2 linked regions of the Homo sapiens genome follow. The protein of the gene in region 1 interacts with the protein of each later gene in a pairwise test. Each region holds a gene or a part of one and is shown in the gene's direction. Other genes may lie near its edges.

Evidence for each region.
Region 2: the proteins of PGAP6 (region 1) and NBPF19 interact in a two-hybrid assay, tested with the Homo sapiens proteins (one large-scale study listed by BioGRID).

Annotation. Positions count from the first base shown.
Region 1 is NC_000016.10:371,799-375,611, reverse strand, and holds part of PGAP6 (post-GPI attachment to proteins factor 6 precursor), read left to right. Parts: intron 1-176; coding exon 177-267; intron 268-355; coding exon 356-479; intron 480-719; coding exon 720-856; intron 857-1,212; coding exon 1,213-1,391; intron 1,392-1,460; coding exon 1,461-1,607; intron 1,608-2,884; coding exon 2,885-3,001; intron 3,002-3,328; coding exon 3,329-3,625; 3' UTR 3,626-3,813. UniProt on the Homo sapiens protein: Involved in the lipid remodeling steps of GPI-anchor maturation. Lipid remodeling steps consist in the generation of 2 saturated fatty chains at the sn-2 position of GPI-anchor proteins (GPI-AP).
Region 2 is NC_000001.11:149,551,491-149,555,303, forward strand, and holds part of NBPF19 (NBPF family member NBPF19), read left to right. Parts: coding exon 1-9; intron 10-718; coding exon 719-770; intron 771-1,396; coding exon 1,397-1,569; intron 1,570-2,283; coding exon 2,284-2,392; intron 2,393-3,004; coding exon 3,005-3,248; 3' UTR 3,249-3,813.

The DNA of each region.
Region 1 (3,813 bases):
GCAGTGAGCCGAGATCGCGGCACTGCCCTCCAGCCTGGGCGACAGAGCAAGACTCCATCTCAGAAAAAAAAAAAAAAAGAAAGGCACCAGCACCAGGCTGAGCTGGCACGTGGGGCAGATGACCCCACTGCGGCCAGGGGCTGCTGGAGCTGAGCCGGCACCGCCTCCCTTTCCAGACAGAGATGCGGAACGAGACCGTCGTAGTGGCCTGCGTGAATGCTGCCTCGCCCTTCCTTGGCTTCAATACTTCGCTCAACTGCACCACAGGTATGATGGGCAGGCGTCACCGTCAGCGTGGCCCCGGCCAGCCCCCCGCCCCGGCCTCCTCTGATGGGGCCCTCTGGCTCCCCTGCAGCCTTCTTCCAGGGCTACCCTTTGTCTCTGAGCGCCTGGTCTCGCAGGGCCAACCTCATCATCCCCTACCCAGAGACAGACAACTGGTACCTCTCCCTGCAGCTCATGTGCCCTGAGAATGCTGAGTAAGTAAACCTAGGGCAGAGACGGGGGCCAGGCACCCTGTCATTTCACTCAGGACCACAGGCCGGGCTGCCTGAGGTTGGCGTTCGGAGTGACCCAGCTAGAGGGGTGCTTCCTCCAGGGCTGCTGAAAGCTGGGGGCCCTAATGCTGCGTTCTCATGTCTGTCAGCCTGTTGGGAGCGCTGGTGGCAGCTGGGCTGTCAGATCACTGCACCAGCTTTCCTGTGGCCCCTTCCTCAAAGGGACTGTGAGCAGGCTGTGGTCCACGTGGAGACCACCTTGTACCTGGTGCCCTGTTTGAACGATTGTGGACCCTATGGCCAGTGCCTCCTGCTCCGCAGACACAGCTACCTGTATGCCAGCTGCAGCTGCAAGGCAGGTGAGTGCCAGGGCCCCGCCCGCCCCGAGACGCTGCTGCTGTTGGCTTCCAGTGCTGTGCTGTGCCTTTCCCCTGGGGGAGCGCCGCAAGGGGCTGGAGAGAGACCCTTGCAGAGCAATGCAGGGGCAAAGCCTCCTCCCCACTCCCCCATTCCCCACCAACAATCCGTCTGCCTGGCACAGGCACCAGGTATCCCCGGGGGGTGGTACTGCCTCCTGACCTTGGACCCCGCCCGCCGTGCCTACCCTGCTTGCTCCTGGGTGAGGAAGGGGCTTCTCTGCAGGGTCCTGGGTGAGGGGTGGGCCCTGAGGTTCAGCAGTGCCCCCAGCCTCCGCGTCGGGGTTTTGTGACCGCAGGCTGGCGTGGGTGGAGCTGCACGGACAACAGCACAGCCCAGACGGTGGCCCAGCAGAGGGCGGCCACACTGCTGCTCACGCTCAGCAACCTCATGTTCCTGGCCCCCATCGCCGTCTCAGTGCGGCGATTCTTCCTGGTGGAGGCCTCCGTCTACGCCTACACCATGTTCTTCTCCACGGTAGGCTGGCCCCTCCTGCAGGGATGTGGGGTGGGAGGGCAGGACCGCGCTCATGGAGCCTCCCCACAGTTCTACCACGCCTGCGACCAGCCCGGGGAGGCGGTGCTGTGCATCCTCAGCTACGACACGCTGCAGTACTGCGACTTCTTGGGCTCCGGGGCGGCCATCTGGGTCACCATCCTGTGCATGGCACGGCTCAAGACAGTCCTGAAATACGTGAGTGGCCCTCGACGTGGGGTGTGGGCTCCGGGGGAGCAGGGCCCCCAAGTGCAGCCTGCGAAAGGCAGTACCGTGGGAGAGGCCGGACCTGGCGTTGGGCACGGCCCCTGGAAACCTCACATCTCGGCCGAGCATGGTGGCTCACACCTGTAATCCCTAGGCCGAGCATGGTGGCTCACACCTGTAATGCCTTGGCCGAGCATGGTGGCTCACACCTGTAATCCCAACACTTGCAGGAGGATCCCATGAGGCCAGGGGTTCAAGAGCAGCCTGGGCTGTACAAAAAATCGAAAAGTTAGCCGAGCGTAGTGGTACATGCCTGTGGTCCCAGCCACTCGGGAGACTAAGGTGGGAGGATCGCTTGATCCCAGGCATTGGAGGCGTTGGAGTGAGCCGAGGTCACAGCACTGCACTCCAGCCTGGGTGACAAAAGAAAAGAAAAGAAACCTCATGTCTTCTGTGATGCCACACGGAGATGCGGGTCTGAGACCCCGCAGGCAGTTGTGAGGGGGCAGTGCCAGCTGTTTGGAGGATGCCAGGAAGGAAGGTGGTAGGCAGGGGAGGCCAGGCCCCCTGCCTTCGAGAAGCCCCCACCCATGCTCCCTGGGTCCTTGGGGCCAATGATGCTTTGGGGACTCTCTGTGGCAGCTGGCCCTGGCAAGGGGAGACTCATGCCCTGGGCTTGTGAGCTGCATGCTCTGCCCTCCCATCTGCTCTGGGAACTGCAGGCTGGGTACTGCCCCAAGGGGGTGCCCATGGGAGCCCCACAGCCAGGGCAGAGGGGAGGCTGGGAAGCACCAGGGTCCTGCAGGGCTGAGTGCGGGGCCTGAACCTGCAGATAGGCAGAGAACTGTAGGCTGTGGGCAGAGGTGTCTGATGGAGACTGGGGGGTGGGAGCCCCTCCCCATGGAACAGTGGGTGGGAGACTGAAGCCACCCTGATGGGGGACTTCTAGAAACCCAGTGGTACAGGGGGCTAGTGAGTGTGTGGGTGCAGAGCGGCCATATGCGTCTGTCCAGTTTGTGTGAGCATCGTCTAATCCCCCAGAGATGCCTGCCTGGCCACATTCACCTGTGGATGCAATACAGAAGCTGAAGGAGGGGCATGTCCCTGCCGGCTGGCAGAGCTAGTCAGAGGCTGGCAGAGCTGGTCTGAGGGTGGCAGCAGCTCCGAGGGGGCAGGCAGAGGTGCTGTGGGGCCGTGGGGTACGCGTGCTCCTGCTGGGCCTTGAGCCCTCAGAGACGTCCCTGCAGTCATCCCTGTGTCTTGCGCAGGTGCTGTTTCTTCTGGGTACACTGGTCATCGCCATGTCCTTGCAGCTGGACCGCAGGGGCATGTGGAACATGCTGGGGCCCTGCCTCTTTGCCTTCGTGATCATGGCCTCCATGTGGGTAAGGAGCCGGGCTGGCTGGCACTGCTGCCCAGGTGCTCGGAGAAGAGAGCCTGGCCCCTTGCTCTAGCCACGTTCCTGGTCCTGCTCCAACCAGTGAATGCCCATATCTGCTGGGGGTTGCCATGGCACCCACAGAGGCCCAGCATGGCTGTGTCCCTGAGGCCTGGGCCTGAGGACCAGTGGCCTTGAGCCCCCTCGAAGCAGCCCACCCTTGTCGTTCTGCTGCCCAGACCTGGGCAGGCCCCCAGTAACCACCGTATCTGGGCCCTGGGAGCTGCAGCCGCGGCCCCACCTGCACTGATACCTGCGTGGCTGTTTTCTCCAGGCTTACCGCTGCGGGCACCGGCGCCAGTGCTACCCCACCTCGTGGCAGCGCTGGGCCTTCTACCTCCTGCCCGGCGTCTCTATGGCCTCTGTGGGCATCGCCATCTACACCTCCATGATGACTAGCGACAACTACTACTACACCCACAGCATCTGGCACATCCTGCTGGCCGGGAGCGCAGCCTTGCTGCTGCCGCCACCTGACCAGCCCGCCGAGCCCTGGGCCTGCTCGCAGAAATTCCCCTGCCACTATCAGATCTGCAAGAACGATCGGGAGGAACTGTACGCAGTGACGTGACACTGGCCTGGGGACAGCTGCTGCTCTGATGACCTCTTCAGCCAGGAGCTGTATCGAGGGGGAGGCGCCTGGTCCAGCCCTGGACAGATTGATTTCCAGCTGAATAAATTGGCCTAGATACCCTCTTACTTCCTCCTACTGAGGAGAGGGCCACCCCTCCCTCACACGCACCTCTCCTCGCCAGCTGC
Region 2 (3,813 bases), on another chromosome or scaffold:
ACGTGGACAGTGAGTACCTTACTATGAAGGTGATAAGCCTCCACCTGGTCTTCCAGATAGGGGTGATATTCCTGTTCCAAGTGGCCCTTACTGACCCGAGAGATGTCATTGCCGCAGGCAGGACCTATGGGCGCATATAGGTTGTAATGAAACTGTAGTCTCAGTTGGAAGCCTAGACATGAAATGGGTCAGTGAGCAAGGCTCTATTCCTAGTCTCCAGCCATGCCTGTGGCAACCTGAGCCCGCTCTCAGCACATTGGACCCAGGCAGATGTAAAAAATTCACAGAACTATGATTTGGACTCAAGGGTTTGTAGATTTCCTCCTTCATTCTAATTTCAGTGTCTAAAATTCTTACATCCATGAACGAGCTGGGCATTTGATGAGACAGGGCTGAATACTGCAGTTTTCCTCCTAGAAATCATCTGGGGCATTTTCTTTGAACTGATGGGAACAATAAGGCATAACTGTTTGCACAAACTTGGGATAAGTGATTTTGGGATAACGATCTTCCAGAATGGGGATATTTCACCCTTGGTTCTGAGATGCAAACCAAAGAATATCATGACCAGCTTTCAGGCCTCCTGAAGTATATCTCTCACATTGTCCTGTTCTCATGCTGAGGAGCCTGAGATCCCTGTGTGGGGATTAGACAGTGGACTGTTATGGGTGTAGGTGAATTGGCTTATTTTGTCTGTCCCTGTCTGAATGTATTGCAGGAATTAAAAAGGACCAAGAAGAGGAAGAAGACCAAGGCCCACCATGCCCCAGGTAACTGAGCAATTGTGAACAGCTACTTCTGTGTTGACATCTGGAGACTCCTGGTTCAGGGAAAACAGAGCGGGCTGACATTATCGATTACATCTTTTCAAGCAAGCCTGAATTATTCCTACTAACATTGCTGTTGGTTTTCATTGCAGTAGATATTTAGGTTTCCATTTCTTCCTCCCCTTATCATTTACTAACCTACTGTAGGTGGACCAGACTTCAAAAACTGTATTCTCATGGCGACTGCATGGAAACTTGAACACATTTTATGGAAAATTATTGAGCACAGTCTTTTCATGATCACTGTATGCTGTGTGTCCTGAGGGCACTAACTCAGAGTGTCCTGTTACTCCCTCATCAGTGTGTCACCTGGACAATTCACTGAGCTCGTTCTCTCTCTCTCTGTGTGTGTGTCTGTGTGTGTGTGTGTGTCTATCTGTCTTTCTCTTTCATTCTTTTCCATTTGGCCCTGTTCTGTCCCAACATGAAGGCAATAATTTGTTACCTCATTAATGGATCTATCCTTTTACTTTCTTAACCACTTCCTTATGCTACCCATGAAACCTAGTTGGGGCTCTGTTGTGTGTGATTTCCCCTGGCTTATTCTTTACTTTTTCCTCCTTTTCCAGGCTCAGCAGGGAGCTGCTGGAGGTAGTAGAGCCTGAAGTCTTGCAGGACTCACTGGATAGATGTTATTCAACTCCTTCCAGTTGTCTTGAACAGCCTGACTCCTGCCAGCCCTATGGAAGTTCCTTTTATGCATTGGAGGAAAAACATGTTGGCTTTTCTCTTGACGTGGGAGGTGAGTACCTTTCTATGAAGGTGATAAGCATCCACTGAGTCTTCCATATAAAGATCATATTCCTGCTCCAAGTGGCCATTACTGAGCTGAGAGATGTCATTGCCGCAGTGAGGACCTATAGGCACATGTAGGTTGAATGAAACTCTAGTTCTACCTGGAAGCCCAGACATGGGATGGGTCAGTGAGCATGGCTCTCTTCCTAGTCTCAGGCCATACCTGTGGCACTCTGATTCTACTCTCATGACATTGGACCTGGGCAGATGTGACAAATTCAGAGAACTATGATTTTGACTCAAGGGTTTGTAGATTTCCTTTTTCACTCTAATTTCAGTGTCTAAAGTCCTCACAACCATGAACAATCTGAGTATTTGATGAGACAGGGCTAAATATTGCAGTTTTTCTCCCAGAAATCATTTGAGGGTATTTGCTTTAAATTGATTGGAAAAATATGGCATAACTGTTTGCACAAACTTGGGACAAATGATATTGGGATAACGATCTACTAGAATAGGGACATTTTACCCACAGTTTCTGGGAGAAAAACCGAGGAATTTCTATCATGACCAGCCTTCAGGCCTCCTGAAATATATCTCTCACAGTGTCCTATTCTTATGCTGAGGAGCCTGAGGTCCCTGTGTGAGGATTAGACAGTGGATTGTTATGTGTGTAGGGGAATCAGCTTAATGTGTCTGTCCATGTCTGAATTTATTGCAGAAATTGAAAAGAAGGGGAAGGGGAAGAAAAGAAGGGGAAGAAGATCAAAGAAGGAAAGAAGAAGGGGAAGAAAAGAAGGGGAAGAAGATCAAAACCCACCATGCCCCAGGTGACTTTCAGCAATTGTGGATGCTTAATTCTGTGTTAACACCTGGAGGCAACAGATTCAGGGAAACCAGAGTGTGTTTGATGTCATGTTTTCAACGAAGGCTGAATTACTCCTACTGTCATTGCTGTTGGTTTTCATTGCAGTAGATGTTTAGGTTTCCATTTCTTCCTCCCCTTATCATTTACTAGCGTACCATAGGTTGACCATACTTCAAAAGCTGTACTCTCATGGCCACTGCATCGAATTTTGAGCATATTTTATGGAAAACTATTGAGCTCACTCTTTTCATGATCACAGTTTGCTGTGTGTCATGAGGGCACTAACTCAGAGTGTCCTTTTACTCCCTTACCAGTATGTCACCTGGCCAATTCACTAGGTCACTTTCTCTCTGTCTCTGTCTCTGTCTCTCTCTCTCTGTCTTTCTCTTTCATTGTTTTCTACCTGGCCCTGTTCTATCCCAACATAAAGGCAATAAATTTTTTTTTTTACCTCATTAATGGATCTATCCTTTTTCTTTTCTAACCACTTCCTTATGTGACTTCTGAAATCTAGTGGGGCTCTGTGGTGTCTGATTTTCCCTGGCTGCTTCTTTAGTTTTGTCTCCTTTTCCAGGCTCAACAGCGTGCTGATGGAAGTGGAAGAGCCTGAAGTCTTACAGGACTCACTGGATGGATGTTATTCGACTCCGTCAATGTACTTTGAACTACCTGACTCATTCCAGCACTACAGAAGTGTGTTTTACTCATTTGAGGAAGAGCATATCAGCTTCGCCCTTTACTTGGACAATAGGTTTTTTACTTTGACGGTGACAAGTCTCCATCTGGTGTTCCAGATGTTAGTCATATTCCCACAATAGGCAGCCCTTACTAAGCCGAGAGATGTCATTCCTGCAGGCAGGACCTATAGGCACGTGAAGATTTGAATGAAACTACAGTTCCATTTGGAAGCCCAGACATAGGATGGGTCAGTGGGCATGGCTCTTTTCCTATTCTCAAACCATGCCAGTGGCAACCTGTGCTCAGTCTGAAGACAATGGACCCACGTTAGGTGTGACACGTTCACATAACTGTGCAGCACATGCCGGGAGTGATCAGTCGGACATTTTAATTTGAACCACGTATCTTTGGGTAGCTACAAAATTCCTCAGGGATTTCATTTTGCAGGCATGTCTCTGAGCTTCTATACCTGCTCAAGGTCAGTGTCATCTTTGTGTTTAGCTCATCCAAAGGTGTTACCCTGGTTTCAATGAACCTAACCTCATTCTTTGTGTCTTCAGTGTTGGCTTGTTTTAGCTGATCCATCTGTAACACAGGAGGGATCCTTGGCTGAGGATTGTATTTCAGAACCACCAACTGCTCTTTACAATTGTTAACCCGCTAGGCTCCTTTGGTTAGAGAAGCCACAGTCCTTCAGCCTCCAAT